Linked DNA regions of Homo sapiens: region 2 is linked to region 1. Evidence: fine-mapped expression QTL. A gene starts in region 1. The other region holds a variant in brackets. All regions are shown on one strand. Distances are between the middles of the regions.

Evidence for each region.
Region 2: its variant is fine-mapped to the expression of AP2A1 in pancreas (GTEx, PIP 0.94).

What each region holds. Positions count from the first base shown.
Region 1 is chr19:49,762,833-49,772,492 of GRCh38, forward strand. AP2A1 (adaptor related protein complex 2 subunit alpha 1) reads left to right here and starts at 4,169. Exons shown (of 23, transcript NM_130787.3): 1 at 4,169-4,368. The coding sequence starts at 4,302. It overlaps TSKS (testis specific serine kinase substrate), which reads right to left and starts at 474. Exons shown (of 11, transcript NM_021733.2): 1 at 246-474. The coding sequence starts at 415. It also overlaps the pseudogene RNU6-841P. RefSeq lists enhancers at 2,834-3,811, 3,865-4,633, 8,573-9,497 and a silencer at 3,724-4,303.
Region 2 is chr19:49,805,534-49,817,313 of GRCh38, forward strand. It overlaps FUZ (fuzzy planar cell polarity protein), which reads right to left and starts at 7,759. Exons shown (of 11, transcript NM_025129.5): 1 at 7,463-7,759; 2 at 7,082-7,203; 3 at 6,718-6,802; 4 at 6,098-6,166; 5 at 5,830-5,934; 6 at 3,845-4,042; 7 at 3,630-3,725; 8 at 3,184-3,290; 9 at 3,041-3,105; 10 at 2,881-2,955; 11 at 1,333-1,841. The coding sequence starts at 7,573. The coding sequence ends at 1,618. LOC105372435 (a long non-coding RNA gene) reads left to right here and starts at 3,387. Exons shown (of 2, transcript NR_187900.1): 1 at 3,387-3,493; 2 at 3,780-4,293. AP2A1 (adaptor related protein complex 2 subunit alpha 1) reads left to right here. Exons shown (of 23, transcript NM_130787.3): 19 at 1-43; 20 at 128-244; 21 at 339-408; 22 at 586-720; 23 at 1,148-1,581. The coding sequence ends at 1,225. RefSeq lists enhancers at 3,514-3,613, 7,630-8,436, 7,823-8,062, 8,273-8,322 and a silencer at 3,794-3,963. The variant A/C (reference allele first, on the strand shown) is at 6,908.

The DNA of each region.
Region 1 (9,660 bases):
CCCCACTGGCTTTTTCCTCTCTCCATCCATCCCCATTACCTTCTTCCTCCCTCCATCCATCCCCATTACCTTCTTCCTCTCTACCTCCCTGTGACTTGATGTCTCTTCACTGCTGCCCTCTTTCCTGCCCCCGACCTGCTGGCTTTTCCCCCTCCCCTTCCTCTAGCACCCACAGTCGGACTCCTGCTCTGTTGGAGGTAGTGCTGGGCATTAGAACCATCCCTGACAGTGTGCAACAAACCCACCCGTGGAACGACACGGCCTTCTTTTTCTTCGGGATCCCCTTGGCCCGGCTGGTCACCCTCCGGGGAGCCTCTGGGACTAGCTGGGAGCAGCTCTCCACCCCCGTGGGGGTGTCCCCGGCCTCATGGATCTCTTTGGACTGCCAGATCGTCTTCACCACCACGCTCGCCATGGTGTGGGGGTCTGGCTCCCAGGGAGGGGCTCCTTCCTCTGAGACTTCCTACCTACTGTGACCACAGACCCTCAGGATCCACTGTCCCCTCAGCCTGCCTCACAAAGGACCCAACCACTGGGCCCCAGTGAGTGGGGGGCACAGGGTAGGGAGAGATGCTGGCCCAGGTCATTCCCCTAGGGTTCTCAGTGGACTCCTCCTGTTCAGGATTCTAGTTACATGCCCAATGTGCCCCCCGTCTTCAGAGCTCCAGTGGATGGATTCATGCTAGCCTGTAACTTAACAATGGGTCGGCCCACGGATTCTTGGGAGAGGTCCAACTTCCCTCTCCCTGAGACTAAGCGTGGGGTCACACAGCCCTGTGCACTTGTTCTTGATTCTTCATGTAGCTTCCTGGATTTGACAATTGGCTGGGGTTTGAGAGACTGTGGTCGAAGAGGGCTGAGATCCAGACCCTGACCTGGAGGGTCTCATATTCTATGGGGCGTCGGGGTCGGGGGAAAGGCAATATACAGGTAGATCAACAAAAGAAAGCTAGGTGCGGTGGGCCTCGGGGTCAGGGTAGAAGGTGAGGGAGGAGAGGAAGGTAGAGAGTTGGGGCAGGACAGAGGGTGGTATCCCCCTCCCCCGTTTATTTATTTATTATTTTCTTTAATACTTTTTATTTTTTTTGAGACAGAGTCTCTCTCTGTCATGGAGGCTGGAGTTCAGTGGCGCGATCTCAGCTCATTGCAACCTCCACCTCCCGGGGTTCAACCGATTCTCCTGCCTCAGCCTCCCCAGTAGCTGGGACTACAGGCGCTGGCCACAATGTCCGGCTAATTTTTGTATTTTTAGTAGAGACGGGTTTCACCATGTTGGCCAAGTTGGTCTCAAACTCCCGACCTCAAATGGTCCACCCGCCTTAGCCTCCCAAAGTGTGGGATTACAGACATGAGCCACCATGCTCCGCTATAATTTTTTTTTTTTTTTTTTAGATGGAGTCTCGCTCTGACACCCAGGCTGGAGTGCAGTGGCGTGATCTTGGCTCATTGCAACCTCTACCTCCCAGTTTCAAGCGATTCTCCTGCCTCAGCCTCCTGAGTAGCTGGGACTACAGGTACCTGCCACCACACCCATCTAATTTTTTTTTTGTATTTTTAGTAGAGACAGGGTTTCACTGTGTTGGCTAGGCTAGTCTCCAACTCCTGACCTCGTGATCTGCCCACTTCAGCCTCCCAAAGCATTGGAATTACAGGTGTGAGCCACTGCGCCCCGCCCGCCCAAAGTATTTAAAAAATATATGGAACATGTCACAAATTTGCATGTGGTCTTTGCGCAGGGCCCATGCTAATCTTCTCTGTATCGTTCCAATGTTAATACATGTGCTGTCGAAGCGAGCACTGCCCTGCTATTTAGGGACAGACTTTTCCTGTTCTCTTCACACTTCTCAAAAAGACTAGTTCAAACATCACTGCTAATAGACATTTTAAATGCTGTTATCCCCAGGGAGAAAGTACTTCTTCCTGGTCATGAATGGACTCCAGTTCTTGGAACACTTAATCTTTCTATAATAAAGAACTCCTGGCTGGGCGCGGTGTCTCACACCTGTAATCCCAGCACTTTGGGAGGCCGAGGCGGGCGGATCACCTGAGGTTAGGAGTTCAAGACCAGCCTGGCCAACATAGTGAAACACTGTCTCTACAAAAATACAAAAATTAGGCGAGCATGATGACGGGTGCCTGTAATCCCAGCTACTTAGGAGGCTGAGGCAGGAAAATCGCTTTAACTCGGGAGGAAGAGGTTACAGTGAGCCGAGATTGAGTCACTGAACTCCAGCCTGGGGGACAGAGAGAGACTCTGTCTCAAAAAAAAGAAAAAAAAAAAAGGCCGGGCGCAGTGGCTCACGCCTGTAATTCCAGCACTTTGGGAGGCCGAGGTGGGCGGATCACAAGGTCAGGAGATCGAGACCATCCTGGCTAACACGGTGAAACCCCGTCTCTACTAAAAACACAAAAAATTAGCCAGGCATGGTGGCGTGCGCCTGTAGTCCCAGCTACTTGGGAGGCTGAGGCAGGAGAATGGCGTGAACCCGGGAGGCGGAGGTTGCAGTGAGCTGAGATCGCGCCACTGCACCCCAGCCTGGGCGACAGAGCGAGACTCCATCTCAAAAAAAAAAAAAAAGAACTTCAAGTCCTGGGATTAATAATTTTTCTTGTGTTTAATGGGGCTGCTTTATGTTCTTCAGGGGCAAACAGCACCCCCCTCCCATATTAGAAATGGACTCTCCCTGTGACTAAAACAGCTGAGCAATTTCTGTCCTCCTGGAATCCAAAATGGACTTTCCCAGGCCCCATTCCTGGAAACCCAAATGGACGCATCCATTGAGCCTGGAAGGTGGGCTCTTCTCAACCTCCTTTCCATCTCCCAGGATTCAGAATGGCCATTCCAAAGGTCCAGAACACACCCCCAAGGCTCATTCCAGGAATTCTTGGCTTCTGAGATTAGAAAAGGCTGATGGGGTGGAGTTTTGTTCCTACAGGTGACAGAAATGGACTCTTCCAGTTCCCTTTGTCCCAAATTTCTCAATCTCCTGGGGCGTTGGGAGTTCTGGCCGTTTTGCCTTCCCCAAAGCCAGTTTACCAAAGAGTCTCTGGGGAGCTGGGGGTTGGGGATGGAGGCTGGGGCTGGGCCAAAGCAGATTCACCTATTTCTTCTTTTAACAAATGTTGTTGAAACTGTTCAAGGCCAGGTCCCATTCTTGCCCAGAAGGAGTTCCCAGTCTGGAGGAGACAATCAATTTTGGTTTGATATCTGCTACAATGGAGGCTGCCCGAGAGACACTGCGGTTGGACAAAAAAAAAAAGGCAACATATATTGAAAAGTAAGCCAAGATACGGTTTACGTTTATTTCTGCTTTTTCACTTCCAAGCTGTGTGGCCCTGGGCAAGTCATTCGCCCTCTCGACCTAAGTTTTAACTTCTGCTTAATGGGACTAGCCTTGAATTACTGTTTTTCACTCTGAGATTCTAGGTCTCCTGACAACTCAAGTCCCGACACGTTGGCTGCAGAGAAGGGGGGAGGGGAGGAAGGCTTCCTAGAAGAGGATTTCAGCAGTCGGGGGTGACAGTGGAGGGAGAAAGGGAACACGGAGACGCTTGCGCAGTAAACACCGCACGCTCTCTTGCCTCGCCCAACCCCTTCTCTGCAGCAGGGAATTGCAGGCGTCGCTCCACCTATCCCAGCCGAGCGGAGTGACACCCTCCCCTCTTTCCTTCTCTACTGATCTTCGCCTTCCGCCCGCCCCACAGCCGCCCAATGGAGGGCTGAAGTAGGACAGATCTCGCCAATCCGCGACGCCTGCGGGGCAGGTCTACCCGTTCATTGGTCCCAGTCAACCTAAGTCCCGCCTCCTAGGACCGTTCCCCGCCTTCCTTCACGTCCCTCCCTTCCTCCTTGGAGAGCCGCTAGATCCAATCAGTGTTTGACCTGGCCGCGCGGAGGGGGCGGGCCCATGATACGCAATCGAACCCCGCCCGTCTCTCGGGCAACGCCTCCTCCCCCCCCTCCCCAGCTCCCAAACGGAAATAGCGGAACACTGGGCCAATCGTAGCGTCGTGCCTTTGCTTGGCGGCCAATGAGAGAGGAAGTGGGGGAGAAACCCGCCTGTGAGCGGCAGGAGCTCAAGCCAGTGGGCGGCTCAGAGCTCCGGACCGCGGGCGGAGGGGAGGGGCAGGGGGCGGTGCCACGGCCTGCCAGCCCGCCCGCCCGCCCGCCAGCCAGCCCTCCCCGCGGCCGGCTCGGCTCCTTGGCGCTGCCTGGGGTCCTTTCCGCCCGGTCCCCGCTTGCCAGCCCCCGCTGCTCTGTGCCCTGTCCGGCCAGGCCTGGAGCCGACACCACCGCCATCATGCCGGCCGTGTCCAAGGGCGATGGGATGCGGGGGCTCGCGGTGTTCATCTCCGACATCCGGAACTGTGAGCGCGCGGCCGGGGGACACTGGAGACGCGGGGGAGGGGGGAGCGTGAAATTGAGGGGTTTGGGGATCACAGAGGGACCCGGGGGATCAAAAGCCTCTGCGGCCGTATAGGGACAGCATAGATGGGCCCCAGGAAGAACTTTAGAGTGGGGGGCACGTAGGGGCTTGGGGTGTCATAGAGTGCCTCTTGAGGTGACGACACGGAGTAGCTAGAGGGGTCCGGGAGGGCTTGAAAGGGGAGGAAGCCAGTGAGGTCCCGGGGATGGGAGCATAGAGGTGTCCCCTGGGAAAGACTGAAAAGCTGGGGGATCTTACAAACGATGGGGTTAGAGGGATTCCCAATGTAGAGAAGAAGTGAAAGAAGTGTATGGCGGGGGTGCCCTGTGGAGCGATGGAATGGGAAGAGGCCAGAGGGGACCTGGAGGAAGTGGAATGCCGGAAGCCTAATGAAGCAGGGCTTGAGGACCTGGGATAGGGGGTGTCATACAGGGGAAAGGGGTTAGATAGGTCACCGAGGCTCCTGGCCAGTGGTATAGAGGAGGCCTGAGAGTGGTTGAAAGTCCATGAGTTTGGGGCAGGGAGATGATGGGACGGGGAGACTATAAGGACACCCTGGTGAAGGATAGAGGGGCTTCAGGGTGGGAGATTGCCTAGAAGACATGGAAGGCAGTGTGGAGGGGGCTAGAGGGGCAGCTGAGGGGAAAGGAGGGACCCAAGGAACACAGAGGAAAAGAGCTGTCGGTGTAAGGTCTTGGGAGAACCTGTGACAGGGAACGGGGGGCCAGGAAAGAAGAGGACATTAGAGTAGGGGATTGGGGAAAGGGTAGAAGAAGGAGCGCCCAGACCTCAAGGAAGGCGTTGGGTTCTGAAGTGCTTGAGGGGTAGATATCTGGAAAGCTGGGAATAGGGGAAGTCTAATCCCAGAGAGAGGTCAGGGGTCAGGCAGCAGGACAGGCAGGGATCTGAGCCCTTTTCTATTTGACCACAGTAATATGGGGACGGTGGTCCCTGCCAGGAAGAGTTGTCGTGACGATGGGAATCCTGGCGGCAAGTCAGCTCTCAACTCCTGGGAATGGCTGTGGGTGATTGGAGCTGCCAGGAGTCTTCAGAGGCTGCATCCGCATGGGCTCTGGGGTCAGCCAGACTTGGGTTTGCGTTTGAGCACTGCCACTCCCTGGCTGTGTGACCTTGAATGAGGGACTTCACCTCTCGGTTTCCTCATCTGTCAAGAGAGACTGCTGATAGTATCTTCCTGAGGGGCTTGTGACAATGCCCCTCAGGCCTTTCACTCGTTCCAGGCCCCAGATGGAACTTGGCTATTGTTTTTACTCCGTTGGCTCTGAACAGCAGCCCTGTAAAGTACCCAGTGATGGTTGTTGTTTTAGAATTTAACTGTTATGGAAGGATCTGGCATGTAATAGGTGCTCAGGGAACAGGAGGGTGGAAACAGTTGAGTATCAGTTGGAGGAGAAATGATCACTTGTTATGATAAGGGGCGGGGCTATGGGGGTTGTGGAGGAGCTGGGAGCCACTGTTAGCAGACGGGGGCTGCCTCTGTTACCCACCAGGGATGTGACCCTCCACGAGTTGTTTAACCTCTTTCAGGACGTTTTCTTGTCTGCAAACTTCATTCATAACAGTGTCTTGCCTCTGAAGGCTCATTTATTCATTCATTCACTTGACAAATACTTTTTGATTGCTCTAGTGTTGTCCAGGCCCTGTTCTAGGTACTGGGGTGACAATAGTGAACAGAAATTCCTGTTCTTGCTGGTCATGGTGGCTCATGCCTGTCATCCCAGCACTTTGGGGGGCCGAGGTAGGCGGATCACCTGAGGTCAGGAGTTCAAGACCAACCTGGCCAACATGGTGAAACTCCATCTCTACTAAAAATACAAAAATTAGCCAGGTGTGGTGGTGGGTGCCTGTAATCCCAGCTACTCAGGAGGCTGAGGCAGGAGAATCGCTTGAACCCGGGAGGCAGAGGTTGCAATGAGCCGAGATTCACACCATTGCACTCCAGGCTGGGCAACAAGAGTGAAACTCCGTCTCCAAAAATAAAAAAAAAGAAAAAGAAACTCCTGTCCTTGGGAGCTCCCTTCCCCGAGGAAGACAGAACATATGCACAGGGAACACCCTGATATACAACCTCAGGACCTGACTGGTTCTGTGAAGAAAAATAAGGAGGAAATGGTCGGGAGAGGGACTAGGATGGAGAGGGTACTCAGTAGGCCTCGTGGAGGAAGTCATATCTGAGTGGAGCAAGCCCTGTGGATTTTGGAGGAAAGGGGTCCTGGCACAGGGAGGTGCATTCAGAGGTCCTGAGGTTGCGGCATGCTTGACATGTGTTCGAGCGAGAGGGAGAAGGTCAGTGTGGCTGAAGCTGTGGGAGTGAAGGGGAGAGAGGGCGGGTGTGGAGGGGAGTGGGAACAGGATCGGGAAAGGCTTTCTGGGCCATGGTGAGCACTTTGGCCTTTGTCTGCATGAGAATATTTTGAGCAGGGGAGGGATGTGACCGATTGATGTTTTAAGATAATTCCTCTGGCTGCTGTGAGAACAGATTCTAGAGGTAGCCATGGAAGCAGGGAACCAAATTAGGAGGGTGTTGCAGGCCTCTGGGTGAGAGATGGTGCTGGCTTAACAGGGTGAGAAGGGACTGGTGAGAAATGGGTTGGTGATACATTTTTTTTTCCGAGACAGTCTCTGTTGCCCAGGTTGGAGTGCAGTGGCACGATCATACCTCACTGCAACCTCCGCCTCCCAGGTTCAAGCAATTCTCGTGCCTCAGCCTCCCCGGTAGCTGGGATTACAGGCACCCGCCACCACGCTTGGCTAATTTTTGTATTTTTAGTAGACGCAGGGTTTCCCCATGTTGGCCAGGCTGGTCTCGAACTCCCAACCTCAAGTGATCTGCCCGCCTTGGCCTCCCAAAGTGCTGGCATTATAAGCGTGAGCCACTGCACCCAGCCTGGGATACAACTTGAAGGAAAAACTGTCAGGATTTGCAAAGGGATTTGATGATGGGGGTTGGGGAAGGAAAGAGATCGTCCCGTCACTGCAGGACCCCAGAGACGAGCCAGAGGACAGAGGGGAGATGCAGGCTTGGGGCACTGGTAGTAATTTAGCCACAGGAATTAGGGCTGGAGAATCAGGAGCCTTTTCTTAGCAAGCGTATGTTGAACGGCTGGTATGTCTCAAGAATTGTGCTGAATGCTGGGGACACTGGTGAACAGGACAGACTTGTCCACCCCCTCCATGAAGCTCCCAGCCCTGTGGGGGAGAAGGTGCAACATACAAATTGCAGTAGTCCTTCACACTAATACCTGGACACGGATGTTCACTGCAACATTATTCATGATAGCCGGAAAACAGAAACGGGCCAAATGCCCATCAACTGAGAAATAAAGTGTGGTCTATGTAGTGGAATATTACCGGGCCTTAAAAAATAATGACGTCCTGCTACATGCTGCCACAGGGATGGACCTTGAAAACATGACACCAAGTGAAAGAAGCCAGACACAGGAGGCCACGTGTTGTATGATTCCATGTTGATAGAGTATCTTGAATAGGCAGATCCATGGAGACAGAAAGATTAGTGGTTGCCTAGAGTAGGGGCTGGTGGGATGGGGAGTGACTGCTCATGAATGCATAGGTTCTTTTTTTATTTTTTGAGATGGAGTCTCACTCTGTCGCCCAGGCTGGAGTGCAATGGGGTGATCTCGGCTTACTGCAACCTCTGCCTCCCAAGTTCAGGCGATTCTCCTGCCTCAGCTTCCTGAGTAGCTGGGATTACAGGCGTGTGCCACCACACCTGGCTAATTTTTGTACTTTTAGTAGAGACGGGGTTTTTACATGTTGGTCAGGATGGTCTCGAACTCCTGGCCTCAGGTGATCCACTACCCCAGCCTTCCAAAGTGCTAGGATTACAGGTGTGAGCTACCATGCCCGGCAGCATTCAGAGCTTCTTTTGGGTTCATGAAAAAGCCTACAGCTGGACACGGCACATGCTTGTAGTCCCAGCTACTTGGGAGACTGAGGTAGGAGGATCATTTGAACCCAGGAGTTCGAATCCAGCCCGGGCCACATAGTGAAACCTCATCTCTTAAAAAAAAAAAAAAAAAAAAAAAGAAAGGTCCTGGAATTCGATAGTAGTAATGGTTGCACAACATCATGAATGTACTAAAGAACGCTGAATTGTTCACTGTAAAAGGGTCAATTTTATGGTATGTGAATTGTATCTCTTTTTTTTTGTGACAGTCACAAAAATGGCGCGATCTTGGCTCACTGCACCCTCCATTTCCCAGGTTCAAGCGATTCTCCTGCCTCAGCCTCCCGAGTAGCTGGGATTATAGGCGCCCGCCACTATGCCCCGCTGATTTTTGTATTTTTAGTAGAGACAGGGTTTCACCATGTTGGCCAGGCTGGTCTCGAACTCCTGATCTCGAGTGATCTGCCTGCTTCAGCCTCACAAAATGCTGAGATTACAGGTGTGAGCCACCGCGCCTGGCCGTATCTCGATTTTTTTTTAAATGGGGAAAGAATTTGCAGCTGTCCTAAGCCCAGTGAGGAAGAGGGCCATGGTGTTGAGAGAATGGGGATTCTGTGTGGTCAGCGAGCTGCGGCCTGGCTTTGCTTCACAAGAGACCTTTGGAGCTGTGTGGGCAGGAAGTAGGGGAGTTACCTAGGCTGAGGGCAGTGAGAAGAGCTGTGAAGGCAGAGGCGGGGCAAGTGCAAAGGTCCTGACTTCCGGACGCCATGGCGGGCATCTCTATCTAGTCCCAGCTACTCAGGAGGTGGAGGCAGAAGGATTGCTTGAGGCCAGGAATTTGAGACCAGCCTTGGCAACATAGCAAGACCCTGTCTCTCTTTCTTTTTTTTGACAGAGTCTGGCTCTGTCATCCCGGCTGGAGTACAGTGGTGCGATCTCAGCTCGCTGCAACCTCCTCCTCCTGGGATCAAGCTATCCTCCCGCCTCAGCCTCCTAAGTAGCTGGGACTATAGGCACATGCCATCATGCCCAGCAAATTTTTTTGTATTTTTCATAGAGTTTTTTTTTTTTTTTTTTTTTTTTTTTTTTTGAGATGGAGTCTTGCTCTGTCGCCCAGGCTGGAGTGCAGTGGCGCGATCTCCGCTCACTGCAAGCTCCACCTCCCGGGTTCACGGAGATGGGTTTTTATTATGTTGCCCGGGCTGGTCTCAAATTCCTGGGCTCAAGTGATCTGCCTACCTCGGCCTCCCGAAGTGCTGGGATTACAGGAGTGAGGCTCAGTGCCTGGCCCCCTTCTCTATTTTC
Region 2 (11,780 bases), 44 kb after region 1:
TGCGGGACTTCCTGACGCCCCCGCTGCTGTCCGTGCGCTTCCGGTGAGTCAGGTACGGCGCGGCCGGTGGGCGGAGCCTCCGGGGTGAGGGGCGGGGCCTAATGGAGCCTCCCTTTCACCTCATCAGGTACGGTGGCGCCCCCCAGGCCCTCACCCTGAAGCTCCCAGTGACCATCAACAAGTTCTTCCAGCCCACCGAGATGGCGGCCCAGGATTTCTTCCAGCGCTGGAAGCAGCTGAGCCTGTGAGGGGTGGGGAGGGGGCGGAGCCAAAGCCGCGCCTCTGGGTGGGCGGGTCGGGCCGTCCAGGTCCCTGACTTGAACCTTCCCGGTCCCCAGCCCTCAACAGGAGGCGCAGAAAATCTTCAAAGCCAACCACCCCATGGACGCAGAAGTTACTAAGGCCAAGGTGAGAGACCGCGGGCGTGTTTGCCGGCCTATGGCTGCTTTGCTTCTCTGAGCCTCTGTTTTCCCATCTGTAAAGTGGGGCCAATTCCCATCCCCAAGGGTTTTTTGGGATCTGGGATGCCACTGTGTGGTAACTAACAGCTCTGGCACACTCTGACGGCGCCCCCCCTCCTCCCAGCTTCTGGGGTTTGGCTCTGCTCTCCTGGACAATGTGGACCCCAACCCTGAGAACTTCGTGGGGGCGGGGATCATCCAGACTAAAGCCCTGCAGGTGGGCTGTCTGCTTCGGCTGGAGCCCAATGCCCAGGCCCAGGTGAGTGCTGCTGTGGGAGGCCTGAGGCCGGCAGGAAGGCCGCCTGTCATCTCTGCGTCCACCCTTCCTGCCTCACTGTTCTTTAATTCACGTCCCCACTTTGACCCTCCTCCTCTCACATTTCTTTGTCCACTTTTACTCCTCTTTATCTATCAGTTTAATCTCCTGTCTCCAACCTCTGGTGTTCCTCTCCTCTTCCTGTCCCTCCCTGATTTCTACCTTTCCATATCCTTTCCACCTTTCTCTCATCTTTTATAATTTTCTTCCTCTCTGGCGCCTCTGTTGATTTCAGTCTTACATTTTTCTCTCCTGTGTCTTGTATCACCTTTCTGGCCCCTTTATCCTTCCTTCCTTCTATCTCCCTTGGGTCCCGACTTCCCTGGGCTCCCCATCTCCTCTGAGTTCTGCCCCCAATGCCCCCACCCAGATGTACCGGCTGACCCTGCGCACCAGCAAGGAGCCCGTCTCCCGTCACCTGTGTGAGCTGCTGGCACAGCAGTTCTGAGCCCTGGACTCTGCCCCGGGGGATGTGGCCGGCACTGGGCAGCCCCTTGGACTGAGGCAGTTTTGGTGGATGGGGGACCTCCACTGGTGACAGAGAAGACACCAGGGTTTGGGGGATGCCTGGGACTTTCCTCCGGCCTTTTGTATTTTTATTTTTGTTCATCTGCTGCTGTTTACATTCTGGGGGGTTAGGGGGAGTCCCCCTCCCTCCCTTTCCCCCCCAAGCACAGAGGGGAGAGGGGCCAGGGAAGTGGATGTCTCCTCCCCTCCCACCCCACCCTGTTGTAGCCCCTCCTACCCCCTCCCCATCCAGGGGCTGTGTATTATTGTGAGCGAATAAACAGAGAGACGCTAACAGCCCCATGTCTGTGTCCATCACCCACTGCTAGGTAGTCAAAGAAGTGGGGTGAGGGCATGCAGAGTGTGGGTGGCCAGGCTTCGCAGCCCATGGGTGGGACTCTGGGGAGACAGCAGCAGCAGCAGCCGCCGAAGCCCCAGCTGCAAGGCCACCAGACGCACTCCTGTGCCTGGTTCCTCAGTCCCCAACACCAGGTAGCAAGCTCTGGGCAGCTGGGCCTGGTAGACCTCATCTTCTGTCTTCTCTGGTGGCCCTGGCTCTGGAGAAAGAACAGGGGGCACTGACATGACAAGTAGCATGCTAACCTTTGCAAGCCACACCACATCCTGATCCCAAGTTCTGAACGCGTGGGGTCTCTGAACACAGGTTTTGGGAGCCTCCTGCCAGGGGAGGGCCTCGGGGCTCTAGCTGGCTGTCAGCAACTTGAAGACCACAATGATGTCACTCAGCTCACCCTCTTCCTCTTTCTCAGCCTTGGCCCCCATTTTCCTGGAGAAACTGTGCAGCTGCAGGTGATCCTCTTAGCAATACACATGGCGAACACGGCAGCAACACAGGAGCTCCTGTAGCCTTTTCCAGGAGCCCACCCGCCCCACTGTACAAGGCGGGTGGAGGGAAACAGGCAGGGGCCAGTGGGAGGTGGAGTCGCACAGCTAAGAAGGGGTGCAGCCCCCGAGTTGGAGCTCTTGACCACTGTGCTGCATTCATCCGGGCTTCACTGGGGTCACAGCGCCATCCCAGGTCCCTTTCTTTGTCTTTCTGGGCCCTTAAGGGTTCTACGACAATTTTTCCGTTCTAACCCAGAATCTTGTGAAATCCTCCTCCATACCCTCAGCCTATCAGCAAAGCCTGTGCTTTTGGCAGTTGTGCAGAGCGCTGGACTGTGTGGATATGGGAGCAAGATCCCCTGTGTTCAAATATGGCTCTGCCACTCATGAGCTGAGCCTCAGTTTCCTCATCTGTAATATGGGAATGATGAGGTAATGGGATAGTCCTCACCTGTGAGGATGAAGTGATTTCATTCTTTCATTACGTGTAAAGGCACTGGGAAGAGGTGAGGTCTCAGTGTTAACTATTGTTGACTATGATCCAGGAGATTCTGAAGCCAGGCGGGGACCTCCCTTCCCCTCCCTTCCCATCTGCATCAATGCTCAGATCTCAAGGAAAACCACTGCCCTATGGCCCAGTGCATACTGGGTTCCTCCGGATCCTCCAACCCCACCTCCTACTCCCATTTTGTGCGACCTGGGACTCAGTGTCCCCGCCTGCGCAGTGGGAGCACTGTGCCTTCCGCTGACCTGGTGGGAAGTGCGTGGAGGTGACCAGGGTATAGAAGTTTCGGAGGAGGCGCCGGCGCTGTTCTGGTGAAGGCTCTGCTGGGAGGAAAAGGCGGTGATGCAGAGCGCCTCCCCGGCCCACGCCCCTCCTACCCCTGCCCCTGCCCCTGTCCTCAGTCACCTTTATCCCCCAAGGGCTCCACGGTGAAGAGGCAGCGCTTCAGTTCCAGGTGGAGGAGCAGCAGCCTGTGGGAAAGGGAAGGGAATGTCATGGCTGGGGAAGAGGACATGACCCCCGACCCACTCCCTCCATCCGAGCCCTACCCGAGGATGTCTGTGTGAAGGGGGAAGCCACTGGGCAGCGCCCGGGGTCCCAACGGCAGACAGGCCCGCAACGGGTCCAGCAGTGGCTGCCACCAGCGCTCCAGAAGCTGCAGGGGGCGTGGTCATTGTGAGGTCGTCATGGGAAGGCGGGGCCGGCGGGGGAGGTCGGGGGGTGTACAAGGATAGGGGCGTGGTCAATCGGGAGGGGCGGGGCCTGCAAGAAGAGTGGAGGGCGGAGGGCAGAAGGGACTGGGGAAGGGGCGAGGCCTGGAAGAATAGAGGCAGAGGCGGGAGCGGCCGATCTTGGCGGGTAGGTGAATGACTGGAGCGCAGTCCAGAAGAGGCGGGGCTGGGGAAAGATGCCGCTGGCAGGGCAGGGTGGTGGGGAAGGGCCCTCCTGGTAGCGGGTGTCCTAAGAGCGAAAGCGGGACGTGGCGCGGGTTCACCTGTGGATACAACTGGCTGAGGGGTGGGCTCGGCCCGCAGAGTAGACACAGCTCCAGGCTCGGCAGCAGAGTCAGGGTCAGGAGCCGGTGTGGGACCTGAAGCAGGGCACAGGCTGGGGCTCATCGCGGCCCGGCCCCTTTCCATCGCAGATCCCGCCTCCTCGCGACTCGGCCCCCAGGTCACATCCCTCCGTCGGTGCCCGCCACCCACTCACCGTGGGGCTCCCGTGCGGCAGGTACACCGGGTAGTCGCGAGCGGTCTGCGGCGGCAGGGACCCCACCAGCCAGGGGAGCAGCACGGCCTCGGGCGTCCCCAGCCGCCACCAACCCTCTGTTGCTGCCACCACCCGGCCGGACACCACCAGACTGACGAAGGTCGTGCCCGCGGCCTCAGCGAACCCGGAGAGGGCTTCCTGGGTACGGGAGGCAGGAGGACTGGGAGTCAGCAGACAAGCGTAGGGGGTGGCAGCGACTTCCCAGATGGGCAGGGAATGGGGAGAAACCCACAGCCAGCCCCGAGCTCGCGCAGTGGCCATGCTCCTACGTCTCACCCTCTCTGAGCCTGAGTTCCTTCACTTTCATACGAAGTCACATCCCCAACTCACACTGTGAAGTCTGTGAAATCTGATTAAACATCTAGCCTGGGCGGGCAAACTGAAGCTAATAATGTAACCGCAGCAGCTACCGTTCATCCAGGCCTGTTACATGCCGAGTAGGCACCATTAGCAACGTAGAGAAGCCAAGTCACCTGCTGAGAGTCACATGCCTGGGAGGCCGCCACACCAGGCAAGTCCACAAGAGCAGTATTTAAGTAGAGGTAGCTAGAGATCTGAGAGGCAGGAGGAAGAACATGCACTGAGGTTGGAAACTTGTTGGGATCTCAGGACTGTGAGGTAGCTGGGTGGAAGTAGACTGTGGATTTAGCAACAGGTTAGGGGGTGCCAGGTGCCACAGGCCTTCAAACACCAGGCTGAGGAGCTGGGACCTTGTCCTGGGGGAGGTGGAGGCTGCCGGAGGGCTGTGAGCAGGAAAGGGGCAGAGCCAGCTCTGGATATAGTAGGGTTCTTCTGGTGGCCGGGTGTGATGGCTCACACCTGTCATCCCAGCACTATGGGAGGCTGAGGCGGGAGGACTGCTTGAGCCCAGGAGTTCGAGACCAGCCCGGGCAACTTAATGGAAACCCATCCCCAACCCTAGTCCATCTCTTAAAAAAAAAAATAGCTGAATGTCAGCCGGGCGCGGTGGCTCATGCCTGTAATCCCAGCACTTTGGGAGGCTGAGGCGGGTGGATCACGAGGTCAGGCGTTCAAGACCAGCCTGGCCAACATAGTGAAACCCTGTCTCTACTAAAAATACAAAAAATTAGCTGGGCCAGGCGTGGTGACCAGCGCTTATAATCCTAGCTACTCGGGAGGTTGAGGCAGGGGAATCGTTTGAACCCAGGAGGCAGAGGTTGCAGTGAGCCAAGATTGCGCCATTGCACTCCAGCCCCTGTGACAGTGTAAGACTCTGTCTCAAAAAAAAAAAAAAAAAAAAAATAGCTGAATGTGGTGGCACAGTGCCTATAGTGTCAGCTACTGGGGAGGCTGAGATGAGAGGATCACTTGAATCCAGGAGTTCAAGGCTGCAGTGAGCTATGACTGAGCCACTGTGCTCTAGCCTGGATGACAGAGCAAGACCCTGTCTCAGAAAAGAAAGAAAGATGGCCCAGGCGCAGTGGCTCACGCCTGTCATCCCAGCACTGTGGGAGGCCAAGGCAGGTGGATCACCTGAGGTAAGAAGTTCGAGACCAGCTTGGCCAACATGGTGAAACCCTGTCTCTACTAAAAATACAAAAAATTAGCCGGGCGTAGTGGTGGGCGCCTGTAATCCCAGCTGCTCGGGAAGCTGAGGCAGGAGAATTACTTGAACCCGGGAGGCGCAGGCTGCAGTGAGCCGAGATGGTGCCATTGTACTCCAGCCTGGGCAACAAGAGTGAAACTACGTCTCAAATAAAAAGAGAGAAAGAAAAGAAAAAAGAAAAGAAAGAGAAAGAAAAGAAAAAAAAAAAAGAAAAAAGATTCTTCTGGGACCAGGTGGGGATAGGACTGGAAGCTGAGAGGATAGGAGGAGGTTGGGACAATGGTCCAGAAGAAAGAGGATGAGGACTGAGCCAGGGCCAGCAGAACAGGTGTAAGAGTTTCCATAGCATCCCCAGTACCTGCAAGAGGGACCCCTCTGGAGGAATCACGCAGTCCACACACTGGGTCAGGTCCCCGATGAGCTCCGAGTCCCCCAGGAAGCTGTCGATGAGGCAATAACTGGCCTAGGAGAGGAAGAAGGGACCAGCCTAGGATTCAAGTGGGCCCAGGGTCAGACAACCAAGAACCTGTGGGACCAGGCTGCCCCAGGGGCTGCTGGGAACTGTAGTTCCCAAATGGCAGTGCCCAGGTATCCTAACTTCCCACCCTCATGTCCTGCAACCTCACCCTCAAGTCCTTCTTCAGTCTCTCCACGTTGCGGATATTGGTCAGTTCTTCAAGTCCCACAAGAAGGACCTAGAAGAATCATATAGGAGAGGATGGGCGAGGGGCTGGGACTTGAACTCCTGGGTCTGAAGGAAGAGGGGGCTGGGACTCCCACTTCTGGGTCTGGGGACTGGGGAGTCAAGATTCCTGGGTTCTGGCCGGGCGCGGAGGCTCATGCCTGTAATTCCAGCACTTTGGGAGGCCAAGGTGGGTGGATCACTTGAGGTCAGGAGTTTGAGACCAGCCTGGCCAATATGGTGAAACCCCGTCTCTACAAAAAATACAAAAATTAGCTGGGCATGGTGGCACGTGCCTGTAATCCCAGCTACTTGGGAAGCTGAGGCACGAGAATCGCTTGAACCTGGGAGGCAGAGGTTGCAGTGAGCCGAGATCAAGCCACTGCACTCCAGCCTGGGCAACAGAGCGAGACTCCGTCTCAAAACAAAACAAACAAACAAACAAAAGATTCCTGGGTTCTGAGGAAGGAAGTGTTGGTGGTCTGCACTCCTAGGTCTGAGGGAAAAGGATGCTGAGATCTCAGATTCCTGGTCTGGGGAGAAAAGAGGACTGGTGAGTCTCACCATGGCTCCAAACACCATTTGGAGTAGTCTCTCCAGCCTCAGCTCAGAGATGCCCACCTCAGATGACAGAACAATGAGGGTGATGCTGTGGAATGGAAGTGAGAAGAATGAGTCAAGGCCTGGGGAATCAGGAAGGGGTATGTTGGAGTCCGCCCATTGATCCTAGAACACCAGATACATCCTCTCTCAG[A/C]CCAACCTGCCTTTCTTATAGAGAACATCAGGGATCAAAGAGGGTAACTGGCTTGCTAAAGATCCCATAGCCAAATTAACAGCTGCTTTTAGAGAGCTGGAAGGCCTCCGGGGTCATCTTCAACAGGGACTATCACCCAGGCCCTGTCCCTGTCCCACGTTCCCTCCTGGGGACCTGTCATGGAAGCTTTTCCACACCACAGTCGTGTTCTCGGTCCTCGCAGAGCTCAGCTGCACCTCCAGATTCTGCCCAAACATGTGGACTCCATTGAGGGAACCGATGACAGAGAACGGGAGCTAAGGAGGGGTTAGGGACATCAGACAAGAGCACCCCCCCATCCCCTTCCCCCTTAGGACCCAAGTGTGCCAGCTCCCAGCCCCATCCTCTTTCCATATGACCTGGCAGTGCCTCTTTGGGGAACCAGGCTTATTGGTCCATTGCCTCCTCGGTCCTACAAATTCAACACTGAAACTTCCCCAGCCCCTACTGCCTTGAAGACCCAGAGTCAAAACACCGAACCCCCTTCGGTTTAGATACAGGCGTCCAAGGCCCCACCTGCTGACGGGCGGGGGCGCCGCCGCGACTGCTCCTGCAGAATAGGGGGACCCCGCTGGAGGCCGCGAGGCACAGCAGATGCACAGTGCCGCCCGTCCCCTCCTCCCCCATTTAGGACTCCCACCGCGGTCCCTCACGTGGGGACTGTCAGTGCGGGTCTTGGAGCATGGCGGTAATCAGAGTAACTCGGCCTGTGGTCCGGAGCCGCCAGAGGGCGAGATGGGGAGCTGATTGGAAGAGGATTAACTTCCCGCCTTCTTCACCCAACTCAAACAGACCCTCAAACCCTATTCAGGCACCTCCCCCAAACCCATTAGGTTCTCTTCCGCCCTAGCCGGAAGTCACGGTACCCCTAACAAAGATGGCGGCAAATTGAATTTGCAAAGCTTTCTAGTTTCTCCGAGGAGGTAAAGAGAACCAAGAAGCCGGATTGAAGATGATGACTGCGCCAAGGCGTTGCCTAGCCACCATCCTGTAGGCTTTGATGATTTACATTCTAAACGGAAAAAACAGCTGTGCCCGGATCAAAGATTGCGATGGTCCCAAAGCATTGCCTAGCAACCACATTCCCTGTAGGTTTCCAGTATATAGTAGTAAACAATGTGCCCTACTCAAAGATGGCGACCGTGGCGGGGCGTTGCCAAGCAACCACCATTCAGCCTGATATCCATTCCAAGGCTGTAAACAGCTGTGCCCTGCTCAAAGATGGCGGCACGTCGAAGTCCGAGCACCCTCCTTGGGGCGAAATCGAGAAAAACACCATCTCCCCTACAACCTTCGAGGGTGGTTGAGTCCAGCGATCGTTGCCTAGTAACCACTAAAAAAAAGGTTGTTTTTGTTATTAGAAAAAAGAAAACAAGGAAATCCTTTATTTTCCAGAATAATAAAAATAATATCATTTCTGTAATGAATTTATACATGATAGCATACCATGTAAAATGTGAAAAATCCCTTCCCCAATTTTTTTCCTAAAATACAGTTTAACGTAGACTATTCATACGTTTTCACAAAGATGATCAATATACTAACATTTCCACACTTTCTTTTTTGCCATGAAAAAGTATGTCTATTTCATCTTAATAATGTATTTTTATAATCTATTTTATGGATGTGACAAATTGATTTGACCAATTCTGTATTGATGTACATTAGGTTGTTGAACTCCTCCAGACTAGCCAACTAGTGCTGGGACAGCATTTTACTGACTTTTTAAAATGCCCTTATGAATATTTTTATTATTTTACACAGGCAGCATTTACTTGTAATGACAAAAGTATTTATGATTCATTTTTCCCTTCCTCTTCCTTCTTGCAGATCAGCCCATCTTTCTAGCATAATTTTTAATTTTCCTACTTCCTAAAGTACATCTTTTTCTCTTTTTTTTTTTTTTGGGAGAGGGGACAGGGTCTCGTTCTGTCGCCCAAGGTGGAGTGCAGTGGAACCATCTCGGCTAACTGCAACCTCCGCCTCCAGGATTCAAGCGATTCTCCTGCCTCAGCCTCCTGAGTAGCTGGGATTACAGGTGTGCCCCCACCACGTCCAGCTAATTTTTGTAGTTTTTGTGGAGACAGGGTGTCGCCATGTTGCCCAAGCTGGTCTCAAACTCTTTGGCTCAAATGATCCACCCACCTCAGCCTCTCAAAGTGCTGGGACTACAGGCAGGAGCCACCATGCCTGGCCTAGGTACCATTTTAATCTTCCTTCTTGCCTATTGATATTTTTTTTCCTTTCTCTGGATTACTTTTATCTTCCTTACAACTTTATTAAAATGTTAGTTACACAGGCATAAAAGAGGGGGCTGCTCTAGATGAAAAGAAACTTGAGACATAATGTCTAAATATGTGTGTGGTCTTTGTTTGGATCCTGATACAAATAAACCAACTGTAAAAACACATTTTGAGACAATTGGAACGTTTGATTACACACTTACTGTTGGATGATACTAAGAAGTTAATTTTGTTACAGGTAACAATGGCATACTAGTAATGTAAGAAAGTGTTCATAAAATTGGAAAGATGCCTGCCAAGCACACAGGAGTAAAATCATATGATTGTATGGATTTGAAGGCTTCAGCAGGCCAGGCGCGGCGGCTTACGCCTGTAATCCCAGCACTTTGGGAGGCCAAGGTGGGCGGGTCACCTGAGGTCTGGAGTTCGAGACCAGCCTGACCAACATGGAGAAACCCCGGCTCTACTAAAAATACAAAATTAGCTGGGCGTGGTGGCGCATGCCTGTAAACTCAGCTACTCGGGAGGCTGAGGCAGGATAATCGCTTGAACCCAGGAGGTGGAGGCTGCCGTGAGCCGAGACTGTGCCATTGCACTGCAGCCTGGGCAACAAGAACAAAACTCCATCTCAAAAAAAAAAAAAAAAAAAAAGCTTCAGCAAATGAGACTGTCTCAAAAAAAAAAGGGCTTCCGCAGGCTCACTGCCTATAATCCGGGCACTCTAGGAGGCCAAAACGGGTGGATCACCTGAGGTCAGGAGTTTGAGACCAGCCTGGCCAACATGGTAAAACCCTGTCTCTAACAAAAATACAAAAATTTGCCTGCGAGGTGGCACACACCTGTAGTCCCAGCTACTGGGGAGGCAGAGGCAGGAGAATCGGTGGAACCAGGGAGGCAGAGGCTGCAGCGAGCCGACACTGCGCCACTGCACTCCAGTCTGGGCGACAGAGCGAGATTTTGTCAAAAAAAAAATAATAAAATAAAAAAAAATAAAAATAAAAATAAAAGATAAAAGAAAAATAGAAACCCAATAAAAAATAATTTTAAATGATAAAGGTAAAAACCTTTATCATTAGGCTTTCTGTAAGTACTTTTCAATTGGTGATTATTATTATTATTATTACTTTTTTTTTTTTGAGACAGCGCCTCGCTCCGTCCCCCAGGCTGGAGTGCAGTGGCGCGATCTCTGTTCACTGCAAGCTCCGCCTTCCGGGTTCACGCCATTCTCCTGCCTCAGCCTCCGGAGTAGCTGGGACTACAGGCGCCCGCCACCACGCCCCGCTAATTTTTTTTTTTTTTTTTTTGGATTTTCAGTAGAGACGGGGTTTCACCGTGTTAGCAAGGATGGTCTCGATCTCCTGACCTCGTGATCTGCCCGCCTTGGCCTCCCAAAGTGCTGGGATTGCAAGCATGAGCCACTGCGCCCGGCCTGTTTTTTTTGTTTTTTTTGTTTTTTTTTTGAGACAGTCTCGCTCTGTCGCCCAGGCTGGAGTGCAGTGGCGTGATCTCGGCTCACTGCAACCTCTGCCTCCCGGGTTCAAGCGATTCTCCTTGCCTCAGCCTCTCGAGTTGCTGGGATTACAGGTGGGCACCACGACGCCCAGTGATACTGACCTCGTGATGCGCCCGCCTCTACCTCCCAAAGTGCTGGAATTACAGGCATGAGCCATCTCGCCCGGCCGAAGATTATGTTTTAAAATATTTACTGGCCATTCAAAATTTTGTGTGTGTGTTTGTGTGAAACTAGTCAGGTTTCTTTTTATTTATTTATTTTTATTTTTTTTGAGACGGAGTCTAACTCTGCCGCCCAGGCTGGAATGCAGTGGCACAATCTCAGTTGACTGCAACCTCCGCCTCCCGGGTTCAGGAGAATCTCCTGACTCAGCCTCCCAAGTAGCTGGGATTACAGACGCCCACCAGGACGGCTAATTTTTTTATTTTTAGTAGTTAGAAGGAGTTTCACCATGTTGGCCAGGCTGGTCTTGAACCCCTTACCTCGGGTGATCTGCCCGCCTTGGCCTCCCAAAGTGCTGGGATTACAAGCGTGAGCCACGGCGTCCGGCCCTGGTCAGGTTTCTTTCTATTAAAACAAATATAAAGTGGCAGGGCACGATGGCTAACACCTGGGATCGCTTTAGCCGAGGAGTTTGAGACACGCCAGAGCAACACAGTGAGACCCCATCTCTACAAAAAATTTAAAAATTAGCTGGAAGTGGTAGTGCGCGGCTGTGGTCCCAGCTGCTCCACAGGCTGAAGAGTGGCTCCAGTGCGAGTAGAGGCTGCCGTGAGCCAAGATTGGGCCACTGCACTTCAACCTGCACAACAGAAAGAGACCCTGCCTCAAAAAATAAAAATTAAAATTAAAAGATAATAGTAATGAAGTGTTTCTATTTTTCTATATTGTTATTCATCAGTAAGATTTATTTGCGTAGTACATTTCTGTCAACAAACACGCTAGAAAGATTTTCCCAGTTGGCCGTATATTTTTCAACTTGGTTTATACAGTCTTTTGGGAAAAATTAATGAAGACTACGTTTTCTAACTTTGCTGTAGTGCTAAGAAACTCCATGGCAGTCATTAAGATTTTTTCC